Linked DNA regions of Homo sapiens. The protein of the gene in region 1 interacts with the protein of each later gene in a pairwise test. Each region holds a gene or a part of one and is shown on either strand. Other genes may lie near its edges. The genes, in order: TRIM14 and PPP6C.

Region 1 (8,687 bases):
TGGTGATAAAATATACATAACATAAAATTTGCCATTTTAACCATTTTAAAGTATTCAATTCAGTGGTATGAATTATATTCACAATGTTGTATAGCCATCACCTGTGTCTACTTCCAAAACTTTTTCATTATCCCAAACAGAAACTCTGAAACCATCAAGCAATTACTCCCCATTTCCCCTCTCCCAGCCCTTGGTAACGTCGACTCTACTTTCTGTCTCTATAAATTTGCCTGGTCTAGATGTTTCACATAAGCGGAATGATAAATTATTTGTCCTTTTTTGTCTGGCTTAATTCACTGGGGATGATGTCTTCGAGGTTCATCCATGTTTAGCATGCATCAGCACACTGCATTCTTTGTAATCGCTATAAATTATTTCATTGTACGAATGTAGGACAATTTATATAATGAACCGATATACATATCCCATATTGAAAATTGTGCCAAATATGTCATGGTTAACAACTGTCTGAGGCTGGTGCACAGGGGAATAAAATAATTTACCAAAACAGCATTGAGTTTAGAAAGGCAGATTTATTTAGAGAAAAGGGGGAGATACATTGAAAGGGAGCAATGGGTGAGACAGCAGAAAGAAGACTGTCTGCAAAGAGGCAGGAGCTGGAGGTGGAGTTTTCTAAGGTTGTGCTGCTTGAGCTGAATGCTTGCAGACAGGATGCCTGGGTGCAGGTGGACTGTGAGTTGAGTGCTTGTAACAGGATGCTTGAGTGCTAGTGAGCTGTTTGTGGTTGACCCTATTTCTCAGAACGTTCGCTCCCCACTGCTGTTGTTTCTGTTTCTGCTAGTGACGCCCATTTTTCAATGTTTTTTTCTTTTCTTTTTTTTTTTTTTTTTTGAGTCAAAGTCTTGCATTGTCGCCCAGGCTGGGGTGCAGCGGCCTGATCTCAGCTCACTGCAAGCTCCACCTCCCGGGCTCAAGTGATTCTCAAGCCTCAGCCTCCCAAGTAGCTGGGATTACAGACACCTACCACTACACTTGCCCAATTCTATTCTCTATGTGTAGAAGCTATATACTGAGAATCTTGGTACACAAATCTTCATGCACATGTGAAAGCATTTTCTAGGATATAAGTAAAGTAAGAGGAATTGCTGCATGAAAGAATAAATGTATTTAAAACTTTGAGGCCAGGTGCAGTGGCTCATGCCTGTAATCCAGCACTTTGGGGGACCAAGGCAGGCAGATCACCTGAGGTCAGGAGTTCAAGACCCAGCCTGGCCAACAGTGACTCCCTGTCTCTGCTAAAAATACAAAAATTAGCCAGGCATGGTGATGGCCACCTGCAGTCCCAGCTACACGGCTGAGGCAGGAGAATCGCTTGTACCCGGGAAGCGGAGGTTGCAGTGAGCCGAGATCTTGCCATTGCACTCCAGCCTAGGCGACAAGAGCAAAACTTCGTCTGAAAAAAAAAAAAAAATTGATAGCTATTGTCGTATTGTCCTCTAAAAGCGAAGTACCAATAGACCCTACCACCCACAGTTTATATAAATGCCCTACTTCACATACCCTTACAGACTGTATTTCAGTCTCTTAAAAGTCTTCCAATCTAATGATCAAAAACTATTTTCTGGGCTGGGCATGGTGTCTCATGCCTGTAATCTCAGCATTTTGGGAGGCTGAGGCAGGTGGATCACCTGAGGTCAGAAGTTCAAGACCAGCCTGACCAACATGGTGAAACTCCGTCTCTACTAAAAATACAAAATTACCTATGTGTGGTGGTGCGTGCTTGTAATCCCAGCTACTCAGGAGGCTGAGGCAGGAGAATCGCTTGAACCTGGGAGGCAGTGGTTGCTGTGAGCCAAGATCGCACCACTGCACTCAGCCTGGACAAGAGTGAAACTCCTTCTCAAAAAATAAAAATAAATAAATAAATAAATAAAAATTGTTTTGTATTTCATCTAATTGATTTATTCTTTGGGCTTTATGTACAGTGTTTTAGTTTAACTGGACCTTCTCTTTTGTTTGTTTTCCTTAACCTTTCATTGTGGAAAATCTCATATTATTTTAATTATTTTTACTTTTATATTTTTAGTACAAAAAATACAAAAATTTGTTCTAAAATGCCACTGTTACACCACACATACACATACATACATTTCCATATATAATTTGAGTTCTTTTAAAAGCTCTTTATTTTGTACTTTTGACCTCTTATCTATGCTTGAGCCACATGGTTTTAGATCCTGTAGATTTATTGTTTTGTTATCAGATAAGGCAGATAAGGCAGATAACCTCTTATCAGTTTTCTCTTTATTGATTTTTTTAAAGCAATTTTGGCTTTTCTTATGCTTATTCTCTCTCCTAATGATTTAATAATTTTTAATCAGCATGTTAAGATTTTGATTAGAATTTCATCAAATTTATAGACTAATTTAGAGACAAATAGTGACTTTATAGTAATCAACCCTCCCAGTCACGAATATGGTTTTGTATTAGGTATATTTCCACATATTTTGCTATTTTTTCTCCCATTTTCAAAAGGATCTTTATTTCTCCGTGCATTTTACGATCGGTGATGGGCTGGTGCTTAGGAAAGCTTTGGTTTTTATAAGTTGATCTTGTGTCTGACTGGCCACTTTACTGAACTCACATTTCAGACGTTATGATTTTTTTCATGTTGATTATTCTGGATTTCCTGGTTGGCAGACATGTCATCTGCAACTGGTTTTTCTGTTTTTAGGCTAATGCAGAGTCAAGTAAAACCTGGCTGAAGGGGAAATTCACTGAACTCAGATTACTACTTGACGAAGAGGAAGCGCTGGCCAAGAAATTCATTGATAAAAACACGCAGCTTACCCTCCAGGTGTACAGGGAACAAGCTGACTCTTGCAGAGAGCAACTTGACATCATGAATGATCTCTCCAACAGGGTCTGGAGTATCAGCCAGGAGCCCGATCCTGTCCAGAGGCTTCAGGTAATGCTGGGGTCACTGCTCTTACTGCTGCCACCTGCCACCCACACTTCATCTCAAGTATTGTGGCATTGAGCACAGTATTGACACACTAAGCAAGTACATGGACTATTGTCTTGTCACCATGTAGACTGTCTTGCCCCCACACAGGTGGTCAAGAGAATATACATTGTTAGGAAGATAATACACCTCTTGGGCTAATTAAATAATATTAACAGCCACCAATTTCAAAGGCCCCTGTGTCCTGAGCACTGTGTAGTTTAGCACTAATATTCACCAGAACTCTGCAAAGTGGGCTCACCCCATTTTATAAACAAGAAATTGAGGCTCAGTGAAGTGACTCACCTGGTCTCACACAGCAGGTAGGTAGCAGAGCTGGTATCAGGTCTGGCTGTCTGTCTAGGTCTGTCTGACTCTAAACCCACAAGGGACCCTGCCTGGCCCTCTGACTGTACAGTCTTTTTTTTTTTTTTTTTTTTTTGAGATGGAGTTTCTCTCTTGTTGCCCAGGCCGGAGTACAGTGGTGCGATCTCAGCTCACCACAACCTCTGCCTCCTGGGTTCAAGCAGTTCTCCTGGCTCAGCCTCCTGAGTAGCTGGGATTACAGGCATGTGCCACCATGCGTGGCTAATTTTGTATTTTTAGTAGAGACAGGGTTTCTCCACGTTGGTCAGGCTGGTCTTGAACTCCTGACCTCAGGTGATCCGCCCACCTCAGCCTCCCAAAGTGCTGGGATTATAGGTGTGAGCCACCGCAATCAGCCTGCCTTTATAGTCTTAAATTGAGACACCCCACCTGAAAAGGCAGGTGTCCTTGCAGCTACTGAGCACATTTCAAAGGCTGAGTCACAGCTGGCTCAATGGTACTCCTTGGCCACTGGGCTTTGTTGAGGAAGAGTCTAAGAAATAGCCCCTGTGGCAGATCACTTGAGGCCAGAAGTTTGAGACCAGCCTGACCAACATGGCAAAACCACCTCTCTACTAAAAATACAAATATCAGCCAGGCGTGATGGCGTGCACCTGTGAGGCTGAGGTGGGAGAATCACTTGAATCGGGGAGGCAAAGATTGCAGTGAGTAACGAGATCATGCCACTGCACTCCAGGCCGGGTAACAGAGTGAGACTCTGTCTCAAAAAAAAGAAAAGAACTAGCCCCAGGGATAGTCATTGCTACATTTAGAGAAAGCATGTTGTTGAGGATGGTGTTCCTGTCTACTTTTTTCTTTTTTTTTGAGACGGAGTCTTGCTCTGTCGCCCAGGCTGGAGTGCAGTGGTGTGATCTCGGCTTACAGCAAGCTCCACCTCCCACCATTCTCCTGCCTCAGCCTCCCGAGTAGCTGGGACTACAGGCGCCCCCCACCACGCCCAGCTAATTTTTTGTATTTTTTAGTAGAGATGGGGTTTCACCATGTTAGCCAGGATGGTCTCCATCTCCTGACCTCGTGATCCGCCCCCCTCGGCCCCTCAAAGTGCTGGGATTACAGGCGTGAGCCACCGCACCCGGCCGATGGTGTTCCTGTCTTTAGGGAACCGTGGAAGAAACTGTTGTCTGGTGTCAATATCCCTGTGCAGTCACTTCTGCACTAGAATTGCTTTTCCACTAATAGAGCTCCTCCTGTTTCCTTCTTTGCCTTGGGAAGTTCAGAGCCAAATCTGCTTTGACTAACCAGACTAAGGCTTCATGGCAAACACTTTGTGTCTAATTTTCTCTTAGCTTCATTTTTCTCGCTATAAAGAAAAATCTTGCCTTATTAGAGGACCTTCACAAGACACTTTAAAGGCTGTGGGACAAGGCAGGGTACAACTAAAAGTGGCACCAACTCTAACCACAGATTAGTATGGGCTCTGGCTGGAAAATAAGACAGACAAATAAGCCAGTCAACACAAAACCCGCCAAGCCAGTCTCCAGCTGGGGATTTCCACTCTTGTGTCTTTATGTGGCCTCAGTCGGTTCAGCCTGTGTCTCATTGTCAGCTGTTTGAGCCAAATTCTGGATGAAGTGTTTTCCTAGGCATAATGGGTGTTGTGCTTTAAGAGAGGCAAGATGCACAAAGTGTTACATGTAATTGTCTCTTTTTAAATAATGGTCGTTTTTAAGGCTATGGAATACAAAGGAATCCTTCCATGGAGAAGCATGCTATTCTCACATCAGAAAACGGTTTCAGGGCTTTGTCATCTTTTTTTTTCAAATTCTCTTGGGCCACAGCTAATGATTTTAATCATTCACCGTTCCCACCTTCTATGTGTTCATTCGTTTATTCATCAATATGTACTGAGCCAGGTCACTTGCTGGACATTAGGAGCTCACAGTTGGGTGGGGGACTTGCTCAGAAACAGTTATTTACAATACAGCTTAAACAATTTTGTAAATATGAAGCTAGCAAAATTATGTCCAAGAAATGTCTGACACTCTCTGGCTGGGAGAAGGATGCAGTCTGGGAAGACTTCTAGGAAGAGGTGATGGTAGGGTTGGGTGCTGGACAATGAGTAGGAGCACACTGTATATAGAGAGGACGCAGAGAGGACAGACAGGAACTGTGTACATGTGAGAGCTTGACAGGCTGGGGAACCAGCTGGGGTGCAGCCTGACTTGAGGAGAGGTGAGGGTATAAGGGTGGGGGGATTGAGAGACACAGCTGGATCCATAGGCCATAGTTAGTTCATGAAGGCCTTATGTGCCATGGAGTTCAGACTTTGTCCTGTAATGAGATAGGAGACAGGAATGTTTGTTTGTTTGTTTTTGAGACAGGGTCTCACTCTATTGCCCAGGCTAGAATGCAGTGGCTCAATCTCAGCTTACTGCAACCTTTGCCTCCCAGGTTCAAGGGATTCTCCTGCCTCAGCCCCTGGAAGAGCTGAGACGACAAGCACGTGCCACCATGCCCAGCTAATTTTTGTATTTTTAGTAGAGACAGTGTTTCACCATGTTGGCCAGGCTGGTCTCAAACTCTTGACCTCAAGTGATCTGCCCACCTTGGCCTCCCAAAGAGCTGGGAGGTGTGAGCCACTGCACCCAGCCCAGGGGAGTGTTTTGAACTGAGGGATGAAAGCATTCACATGGTCAGATTAGTGCTTTAGAAAAGTCACTTTAGAGATAGAGTGGAAGATGGACAGAGGAGGCCAGGATGGGAGGCTGGAAGAGAACTTGGGAGGAGGCCACAATGTCCAGGAGAGAGATGATGGTGGCCTGGACCAAGACAGGGGCAGTGGGGATGGGGAGAAACAGGCAGGTCAAGAGATGCCACAGGAATGGAGATTGGAATTGGAGAATGGGTAGGAGGAATCCCCAGATGATGCCTGGGTTTCTGGCCTGAGAGATGAAGGGCTGGGATTTCTGTTCTCTGAGTCTGCAAAGGCAAAAAAGTGGCTGTGCTCGGTTTCATGCATTGATTTATTCCATCATACATATGTTTTGAGAACCTGTGTGTCAGGTCTGGTGCTAGCTGCTGGAGTTTGGGGTTACCAGGTGGTGCCATGTGTCCTCTATCGACCCCTCATCCTACCCTACTCATCTGCCCTCTGAGCCCCCTCTCGCCTCCCCGGAGCTGCTCCCTGCCCACCCTGGACTTCCTGCTAGTGCTTGGTCTCCCCTGGCCAGCTCCATTCCAGCGCTCTGGGTGTGACCTTAGGCCTGGTTCCCCACCAAAATGAGGTTGGACTCTATAGACTCCTGGCCTCCTAGGCTGAATGGGGCTTGCAGGCCATCTCACAGCCCCCTCCCAATGTACAGCATGCTGCCAGGTGGGATCTGCCCCTGCCCAACAGCCAAGTGCTAGGCCACCCTCCCTCCCTCCTGAGGCCCTCATCTGTCCACCCCTTCTCGGGTGGGCAGCACTGCCACTGCCAGCCAAGCCTGATCACCTGAGGCAGTCATCTTCCTTCCAACTCCTGGCCAGGACAGAGCTTCAGAAAATGCAGCCATGGTTCTTACCTGCAAACATGAGAATCCACTGGAACTGTTTTAAGCAAGAAAGGAGTTTATGGAAGAGTATGAGATAGCCCATAGGATCTCCAGGAGGGCCAGAGAGTCGGGATGGAAGATGGGCAGCAGGAATGAAGTCCAGACTCCAGCAGGGGTTGGTGCCAGTATAGGCCCCACGGCACCCCTGCTGGGCAAGACATCACCACTCACACCACTGACCAGAGCCCCCACCACTGCTGTCCCTCAGTGCCACATGCCACCATCACTACCTTCACCGTCATTTCCAAATCCACGCTTTGGCTTGGAGGCGTCTGGTCACACTCCTGCAGCACAGGTGCAAAGGGAGCTGGGAGAGGGGGTTTTCTAGCTTCTCCTTAGTGAAGCCACATACCACAGGAAAGTATTGAAGAGGGGCTGTCCAGGTGCAAAACAGGACACATGTCCCCTGCGGTGGCCACACCCCCTCAGTCAGCACTGCAGCTGAACCTTGCTGGCCTTTGGCGTCCTTCTTAGAACATGGTTTCCTGCTCCACCTTTGAATAAGCTCCAGGTGCTCCTTCCCCAGGGAGACTGACCTCTCACCCTTTTTGTACCCAAGGCAGACCCGTGGCGCAGTGTGTGTGAGGCTGAAGCCTCTCTGGGAAGGGCCCCGTGTCAGCCTGACCCTGCCTTCTGCATGCATAGCTGGCACAGAGTAGGTTTCAATGAACACGTAAGGAAGGAAGGAAAGGAGGAAGGATGGAGAGGGAGGAATCCCCAGTGCCAGCACTGAAAAACCGCACCTCCGCATGGCTCCCACCTCAGGGATGCCGTATGGTCTCTCCAGGGCTCTGCTCCTGCAGGCATGGCCTGGGCTGACCATAGGTGCCAGGCCAACGTGGAGCCTGGGCATGCTGGTGTGGGTTTGTTCCTGGGTGCAGCACAGGAGGCTGGGATGCTGCCTGCATCTCCCAGAGCCACCCTCACCCCCGTGTGCCCACACAGGCATACACGGCCACCGAGCAGGAGATGCAGCAGCAGATGAGCCTCGGGGAGCTGTGCCATCCCGTGCCCCTCTCCTTTGAGCCCGTCAAGAGCTTCTTTAAGGGCCTCGTGGAAGCCGTGGAGAGTACATTACAGACGCCATTGGACATTCGCCTTAAGGAAAGTAAGTCGCCGAGTGACCAACTTTGTGTCCTTAACTCCCCTAGTGTCCTTTAGCCCAGAGACGAATGCAAAGATCATCTCCCTACATCCTGTCTCTCCCACACTGAGGCCCTTGGCTGGGCGGTCAGGGGCTCCTGGGCCTGGTGCCCAACCCACCCTCACCACTTCACCTCCAACCCTTCCTGAGACTGAGACCTGCCCTTCTCCAGTCACACTGCCCTGCTTCTGCCCCTCAGATTGCTCCTGGGAGCCTGCCACATCTCAGCCTTGCTCTGGGCTCCCAGCTGGAATGACCAACTCTTCCTCCTTCTCTTCCTCTGGCTGGGGCCAAGGCCTGGCACCCCTTCGAGGCAGACTGGCACAGCTGCGCCCACCTGGGAAGCCCTTTCCTGCCAGCCCAGCCCTGACTCACTCTCTCCTTTAGCCATCTCCCCTCTCCCTTCCCGCTCCAGGGCCTGCCCATGTCCTGCTAGAGGGTGCTCATGAAGTGGATACATGGACCCCCCTCCTTGCCCCTTGTAAGCACGTGAAGGGCAGAAACCAGCTTTAGGTCCAACTCTGAGGTCCCCCCAGGGCCTGGCACAAAACATGTACTCAAAAATATCTGTTCTTTGATTCATTTATGCATTCATTCATTCATTCACCTCTGCTATCATGATTCATTCAGAACATTTATCAAGCCCCTCTTATATGCC
Region 2 (8,687 bases), about 27 Mb from region 1:
GGCTGGGAAGTGGAATTTTTTTTTTTATCAGAGGCAAGGAAACATCCAGTCTGCCCAGTAGTTCTCAAACTTTTTGGTTTCAGGATTCATTTGTGATCTTAAAAACCAGAGGTCCTGAAAATCTTTTATGTAAGTTTTACAAATCAATATTTACCATATTAGAGATTAAAACTCAGAAGTTTTAAATATTTAAATGAATTTTTAAAAATTAATAACATAGGCCAGGCACGGTGACTCACACCTGTAATCCCAGCTACTTGGGAGGCTGAGGCAGAAGAATCGCTTGAACCCGGGAGGCAGAGGTTGCAGTGAGCTGAGATCACACCATTGCACTGCAGTCTGGGTGACAAGAGTGAAATTCCATCTCAAAAAAACAAATCAATAACATACCCATCAAAAAGTATCACAAACACATTTTAATGAAAAATTAACTTTTCCAAAACAAAAAAATTGTTTAGTGAGAGGAGAATTCACATTGTTTTACATTTTCACAAATCTCTTCAATGTCTGGCTAAATAGAACATGGCTAGTCTTAGAACTTGCCTCTGCACTCAGTCTGTTGGGAATATACTAAGTAAAGCAGATGAAGAAAATCCAGCTTCACAAAGATATGCAGTTACAAAAGGAAGGAGTATTTTAATAACATTTTCAGGTAACTGTGCATACTCTTTAAATACTGTACCAAAATTTGACAAGTGGCAGTTTATGACACTTAAAAGTTAATCGCAATATGAAATCTGAAACCATAACAGTAATCTTTTGCTTTTTTTTTTTTTTTTTTGGAGACAGGATCTCTCCCTGTTGTCCAGGCTGGAGTACAGTGGCACATTCTCAGCTCAGTGCAACCTCCACCTCCCAGGTTCAAGCAATTCTCATGCCTCAGCCACCTAAGTAGCCGAGATTACAGGCACGTACCTCCACACCTGGCTAATTTTTGTATTTTTAGTAGAGACAGGGTTTCACCATGTTGCTCAGGCTGGTCTCAAACTCCTGGGCTCAAGCGATCCGCTTGCCACGGCCTCCCAAAGTGCTGGGATTGCAGGTGTGAGTCACCAGGCCTGGCCTATAATAGTCATCTTTCATACCCTGTTACATTTGTTATCTTACACTTTGAGTAAATGGTAAACTAGTAATTTGAAAAATGAAAATGACATTGCATTTTATATCATCAAAAAACCATATTTGTTAATATCACTGCTCATTTCATCTCAGGAAAGTCTTTTAAGTGTCGGAAACTGTTAGCCCCATAGTGGTGGACTCAGATTTTCCAAAATTCCAATTTTTCATTAGTAAATTCAAATTTTGTCATCGGCAACAAATACTGTCAATTGTTCTCCTTGAAGTGACTGGCCCACTTCCTTCACTTTTGCAAATATAGTTGCCAAATACCCAAGTCTAAATAATCACAGTTTGTCAGTCATTCTCAAGTAAAAATAGTGTTCCATAAAAAAGCAGTTATTTTAACTCATGACTCAAAGAATTTCACAAGTATTTTTCTTTTTCTTTTTTTTTTTTTTTTTAGCAGAGTCTCACTCTGTCACCCAGGCTGGAGTGCAATGGTGAGATCTCAGCTTACTGCAACATCCGCCTCCCAGGTTCAAGTAATTTTCCCTGCCTTAGTCCCTGAGTAGCTGGGATTACAGGCACCCACCACCACACCTGGCAATTTTTTATATTTTTTAGTAAAGATGGGGTTTTGCCATGTTGGCCAGGCTGATCTTGAACTCCCGACCTCAGGTGATCTGGTGCTGGGATTACAGGTGTGAGCCACCGTGCCCAACCCACAACTACTTTTCCTTGAGTAAACTATCTTTCTTCAGCATGCAGTAGATATGCTTTATGCATACTTCCCATTTCATCACACAGACTTTTTTCTTTTTCTTTTTAGATGGGGTCTCACTCTGCTGCCCAGGCTGGAGTGCAGTGGCACAATAATAGCTGACTATAGCCTCAAACTCCTGGGCTCAAGCAATGCTTCCACCTTAGCCTCTTGAGGAGCTAGGACTTACAGACTCACACCACCAAGCCTGGCTAATTTTTTTCTTTTTAATATTTTTAGAGATGGGGGCCAGGTGCAGCGGCTCACACCTGTAGTCCCAGCACTCTGGGAGGCTGAGGCAGGTGGATCACAAGAGGCCAGGAGTTCGAGACCAGCCTGGCCAACAGGGCAAAATCCCATCCCTACTAAAAATACAAAAATCAGCCAGGCGTGGTGGTGCGTGCCTGTAGTCCCAGCTACTCGGGATGCTGAGGCACAAGAATCACTTGAACCCGGGAGGCAGAGGCTGCAATGAACTGAGATCACACCACTGCACTCCAGCTTGGGTGACAGAGCGAGACCCTGTCCAAAAAAAAAAAAAAAAAAAAGAAATAAAAAAAAGGCCGGGCATGGTGACTCACGCCTGTAATCCCAGCACTTTGGGAGGCCGAGACAGGAGACAGGAGGATCACATGAGGTCAGGGGTTCAAGACCAGCCTCAGCAACATGGAAAAACCCCATCTCAACTAAAAATACAAAAAGTTAGTCAGGCGTGGTGGCACATGCCTGTAATCTCAGCTACTCAGGAGGCTGAGGCAGGAGAATCGCTTGAACCTGGGAGGCAGAGGTTGCAGTGAGCCAGGATCGTGCCATTGCACTCCAGCCTGGATAACAAGAGAGAAACTCTGTCTCAAAAAAAAAAAATTTTTTTTTTTTAGAGATGGGGAGTCTCAGGCCGGACGCAGTGGCTCACGCCTGTAATCCCAGCACTCTGGGAGGCCAAGGCAGGTGGATCACCTGAGGTCAGGAGTTTGAGATGGGGGGGGGGGGGGGGGGTATCATTTGGTTGCCCAGGCTGGTCTTGAACCCATGGCTTCAAGCGATCCTCCCACCTCAGCCTCCCAAAGTGCTGGGATTATAGGCATGAGCCATCATGCCCAGCCAGACTTTTCAAATAATGGATATTCTAAAGGATTGAGAGTTAAGTGAAACTGGCATTTTATTTTACTGTGCAGGCATGTTGGTGAAGAACTCAATGATAATCAGTATATTCTAGTGTCATTCCCTTGGTTCATGCTAAGGCACGAGCAGTTTTACCCTCCATTGCCTCTGTACCACCTTAGAGACCCAAGGGTCCACAGGCCACACTTAACGAATTTGTGAGCTAGCTGAAATGGCTTCTTAAACAACTAATATATAGCCAAGCCAGGATTTAAACCAAGTTGTATCTGACACTGAAATCTATAACTCCTCACTATATTACACAGCTTCAATACTTCTCAGCACAACATGCTTGCTAACATGTTTATTCATACTCATAACCCAATCCTGCAATTCCAGAACAGGCCCCAGAGGAAGATAAGTCCCAAAGGATACATTTTACATTGTATTTAATCAGTCAATAGCTATTTAGAGGCTCAAATCCCATGTTTCTGATTAGCAATCTTCTGTTTTTCATTTTTTTGAGACGGAGTTTCGCTCTTGTTGCCCAGGCTGGAGTGCAATGGCGCGATCTCGGCTCACCACAACCTCCGTCTCCCAGGTTCAAGCAATTCTCCTGCCTCAGCCTCCTAAGGAGCTGGGATTACAGGCGCCTGTCACCACACCTGGCTAATTTTTGTATTTTTAGTAGAGACGGGGTTTCACCATATTTGCCAGGATGGTCTCGATCTCTTGCCCTCGTGATCCACCCACCTCAGCCTCCCAAAGTGCTGGGATTACAGGCATGAGCCACCACACCCGGCTTATTTTTTATTTTTTATTTTTTCGAGACAGAGTCTCACTCTATTGCCCAGGCTGGGGTGCAATGCATGATCTCGGTTCACTGCAACCTCTGCCTCCCGGGTTCTAGCGATTCTCCTGCCTCAGCCTCCCAAGTAGCTGGGATTACAGGCACGCACCACCACACCTGGCTAATTTTTGTATTTTTCGTAGAGACAGGGTTTCACCATGTTGGCTAGGCTGGTCTTGAACTCCTGACCTTCTGATCTGCCTGCCTCAGCCTCCCAAAGTGCTGGGATTACAGGCGTGAGCCACTGCACCTGGAACAATTGTTTTTTAAGGAACACATACAACATAAACAATTGTTCACGGTTTGGTGGTGGTCTTAAAATAACATGTACAAAAGAAACCCAAATTAGTTTCAAATCTCAATCTGCCCTGTAGTAGCTGTGTGTGAGTTTGGGCTATTTCTCTTCAATCTTTCAGTCTCCCTTTCATTGTCTACAAAATAATCCTATCTCACAGGACTTTGGGAAAAAACTGACACAGAATATGTGAAAAAGTACTTTGTTAACCTCAAAACACAAGATATATGTTAGCAAGAACTGCACATTTGACTGAAGGTATATATAATACAAAAGTTCAATTTTATGCTTCCAATTTTAGTAGTTCGAGGTTGGTCTCTAACTTTCTGACCTTTGATCATGGCTGTACTTCACATCTTAAAAAGTCTACAACTGGGGGAAACACTACACTGGGGGAAAACATGACTTGGTTTATTCCAGTTTTCAGGAATGTGTTAAGACACTGCTTATATTAATATCCTTTATGTTAGCAAAATACAAATGTTTACTTTGAGAGAGAAGTTACATAGAAACTTCTACACTACACTGGGGGAAAACATGACTTGGTTTATTCCAGTTTTCAGGAATGTCTTAAGACACTGCTTATATTAATATCCTTTATGTTAGCAAAATACAAATGTTTGAGAGAGAAGTTACATGGAAATTTTAGGAAATCAATTCCTAAAGTCTACTCTAAAGAACTGTAATTTTAACAATCAAAGATGACATAATGGGACCTCCATCTAGGAGGTGATGACATGCAAGTGTCAGATTTTTTTATAATCTAAAAAATCCAGAAAACACCTTGAAAAACCAAAAGAAAATCAGCCTGTAAGTAAGTAGCCAAAACAAGACTTTACTCATGGAGCAGCCCCTAATCAGAGTCAATTTACACACATTTCTGCTCATTTACACAGTCATATTTAAAGCAGGGAAATTGCACAGGTGACAGTAAGTCCTGTTGGCATCCTTTAAAGACTACATTGTTTGCAATGTATTATTAAGTCTTATGGCCCCAACTACACTGTATGCATATAGCACTCTATGAGTAATCTGTTCAGCTTTCATTTCCCAGTGAAAAAATTCTACAAATATACATGAGACTAAACACTGACAACAGAATCTAAATATGAGGTATGCCCCTCCTGTTACTGCTTTGAAATTCTTTTTTTTTTTTTTAGACAGAGTCTTGCTCTGTTGCCCAGGCTGGAGTGCAGTGGTGCGGTCTCGGCTCACTGCAACCTTCACCTCCCGGGTTCAAGAGATTCTCCTGCCTCAGCCTCCTGAGTAGCTGGGATTACAGGCACGCACCACCATGCCCAGCTAATTTTTTTGTATTTTCAGTAGAGACGGGGTTTCACCATGTTGGTCAGGCTGGTCTCAAACTCCTGACCTCACGATCCACCCGCCTCAGCCACCCAAAGTGCTGGGACTACAGGTGTGAGCCACCACGCCCGGCACTGCTTTGAAATTCTTACAAACACCCAGCAGATGAAAAATTGAGCTAAATATTTTCTAGCTCATTCATCAGTGATTTGCTGTGACATCATGGACCAACAATTTTATTTTTCTGTACCTTTGCTATTCTCATTCCCACTAAAGAAATGATAAATTTTCAACAATATATGACAGGAGAACAGAAATGAACTGAATGAAAAAAGTGCCTAACACCAAAACATCTCCTGTTAATCATAGTTATTATGAGCAGTATGTGTTTGTACTTTATATCTTCTACCTACCCCCAACCCCACCATTCCACAGAAAACTAATGCTGCATTATTCACTTCACAAATGTAATTATCAACAAATTCCATCACTAATTTGACCACTGCTTTTATTCACCAAAAATGTAAACCAGGAATCATTTGTGTCACAGAGACTGAGGCAACCTAGCTTACCACCAGTTGTGTTTGTTGATGTTGTTGTTGTTTTAATTTTGCAGCACATGTGAAAACACACATGGATCATGGACAGTACAAAACTTAAAAATCTGCTCATGAAATTTTACCTGTCCATGGATATCTCCACACACTGTTACTGGTGTTGATACTGGCTGAACATTTGACTCTTCTAAGAGGAGGTCACAAACGTAGTCACATAGCCGCTATAAAAAGAGAAAATAAAAGGTAAACATTTACTACAACATTAAAACTAAAGATAAAATACCAAAAAAGAAAAATACCAGGTCTAATACTTACAAAACCCAAGTATACTTTTTGATAGGAAAGTACCCTGTGATAATTCGGGGGTTGGATTTCTGTCAGCTGTCACACAGAATTCTTAATGCAATGCAAACTACCTACAGAGACACTAAGGTTCTAGGAGACAGACAGCTTTACAAGAACTGTAAAATGATGTTTTTCACCAAACACACACACACATATACACACACACACACACACATATATATATATATATATATATATATATATATATATATGAAGAAATAATTTTAACAGTAAAAGGTTTTTGGGTTTTTTTGTTTTTTTTTTTTTTAAACGGAGTCTCACTCTGTCTCCCAGGCTGAAATGCAGTGACACGATCTCGGCTCACTTCTACCTCCATCTCCCAGATTCAAGCAATTTTCCTGCCTCAGCCTCCCAAGTAGCTGGGGTTACAGGCATGTGCCACCACACCCGGCTAATTTTTGTATTTTTAGTAGACACAGGGTTTTACCATGTTGGCCAGGCTGGTCTTGAACTCCTGACCTCAGGTGATCCACCCACCTCAGCCTCCCAAAGTGCTGGGATTACAGGCGTCAGCCACCGTGCCCAGCCAGTAAAAGATTTTTATCTGGTAATTTAAAAAATAAATTGCAAACCACACACTTACCATTTGACCCAGCAACTGTAGTCTTGGCAATAAAAACATGTTCAAAATCTGTATATAAATACTCGCAGAAGCCTAATGCATCATAGCCCAAAACTAAAAACAAATCAGATATCCTTCAATGAGTGAATGGTTAAACACATTTTGGTACATCCACACCATGTAATACTACTCAGCAATAAAAAGAAACGAATACTGCCACACAACAACCTGGATTCATCTCAAGGCATTTATGTTGAGTGAAAAAAATGAAACAACAGAAAACTGTCCCAAAAGGTTATATACTGTATAATTCCATTTATATAACCTTCTTTTTTTCCCTTTTTTTTTGAGACAGAGTCTTGGTCTGTTGCCCAGGCTGGAGTCCAGTAGCACAATTTCAGTTCACTGCAAACTGCCTCCCAGTTCAAGTGATTCCCTTGCCTCAGTCTCACAAGTACCTGGGATTACAGGCACACACCATCATGCCCAGCTAATTTTTGTATTCTTAGTAGTTTCACCATGTTGGTCAGGCTGGTCTCAAACTCCCAACCTCAGGTGATCTGCCCGCTTCGGCCTCCCAAAGTGGTGGGATTACAGGCATTGAGCCACTGCACTCGGCCGTGTTTACACATTCTTGAAATGACAAAATTAAAGAAATGGAGAACGGATTAGTTGTTGTCAGGGGTCCAGCAGTTGCAGGAAGGAAGTGGGTGTGGCTATAAAAGGGCAACATGAGGAATTCTTGTGATGATGGACCTGTTCTGTATTTTGACTATAGAGTTGGATACATGAGCCCTTACCCAATAAAACTGCAAAGAACTGAATACACACAAACACACACACACACACACACACACACACACAAACACACACACACACACACAAACACAAGTAAAACTGAAGAAATCTGAACATCATGAGGTGATGATCTTGGGTTGTACCTAAAGATCATGAGTTGTATCAGTGTCAATGTTGGCTGATGTTGTATTGGTTGTGGCATTACACTATAGTTCTACAAAATGTTACCACTGGGGAAAACTGGGTTATTTTGAAATAAAAAGGCTAACTATAATTAATTATAAAATTCAAATCTAAAACTGAGGAGCCAGCTGGGCACGGCGGCTCTCGCCTGTAATCCCAGCATTTTGGGAGGCCAAAGTGGGTGGATCATTTGAGGTCAGGAGTTCAAGACCAGCCTGACCAACATGGCAAAACCCCCTATCTCTACTAAATATAAAAATTAGGCTGGGCATGGTGAATCACGCCTGTAATCCCAGAACTTTGGGAGGCTGAGGTGGGTGGATCACAAGGTCAGGAGTTCAGGACCAGCCTGGCCAACGTAGTGAAACCCCGTCTCTATTAAAAATACAAAAATTAGCTGGGCGTGGTGGCAGGTGCCTGTAATCCTCAGCTGAGGCTGAGGCAGGAGAATCACTTGAATCTGGGAGGCAAAGGTTGCAGTGAGCCGAGATTGCACCCATTGCACTCCAGCCTGGGCAGCAGAGAGACTCCCTCTCAAAAAAAAAAAAAAAAAAAAAAAAAGTAGCCAGGCGTGGGGTGCACAGCTGTAATCCCAGCTACTCGGGAGGATGAGGCAAGAGAATCGCTTGAACCCAGGAGACAGAGGTTGCCGAAAACCGAGGTCGCGCCACTGCACTCCAGCTTGGGAAACAGGGTGAGACTCTTTCTCAAAACAAACAAACAACAACAACAACAAAAAAGATGAGCCTTTTTTAATTTTATTTTTTTGAGACAGAATCTCGCTCTGTTGCCAGGCTGGAGTGCAGTGGCGCAATCTCAGCTCACTGCAATCTCTGCCTCCCAGGTTCAAG

Evidence for each region.
Region 2: the proteins of TRIM14 (region 1) and PPP6C interact in a two-hybrid assay, tested with the Homo sapiens proteins (one study listed by BioGRID).

What each region holds. Positions count from the first base shown.
Region 1 is NC_000009.12:98,094,173-98,102,859, reverse strand, and holds part of TRIM14 (tripartite motif-containing protein 14), read left to right. Parts: intron 1-2,695; coding exon 2,696-2,929; intron 2,930-7,830; coding exon 7,831-7,993; intron 7,994-8,687.
Region 2 is NC_000009.12:125,165,033-125,173,719, forward strand, and holds part of PPP6C (serine/threonine-protein phosphatase 6 catalytic subunit), read right to left. Parts: intron 6,985-8,687; exon of another isoform or gene 6,916-6,984; coding exon of another isoform or gene 6,877-6,915; intron 6,149-6,876; coding exon 6,053-6,148; intron 1-6,052.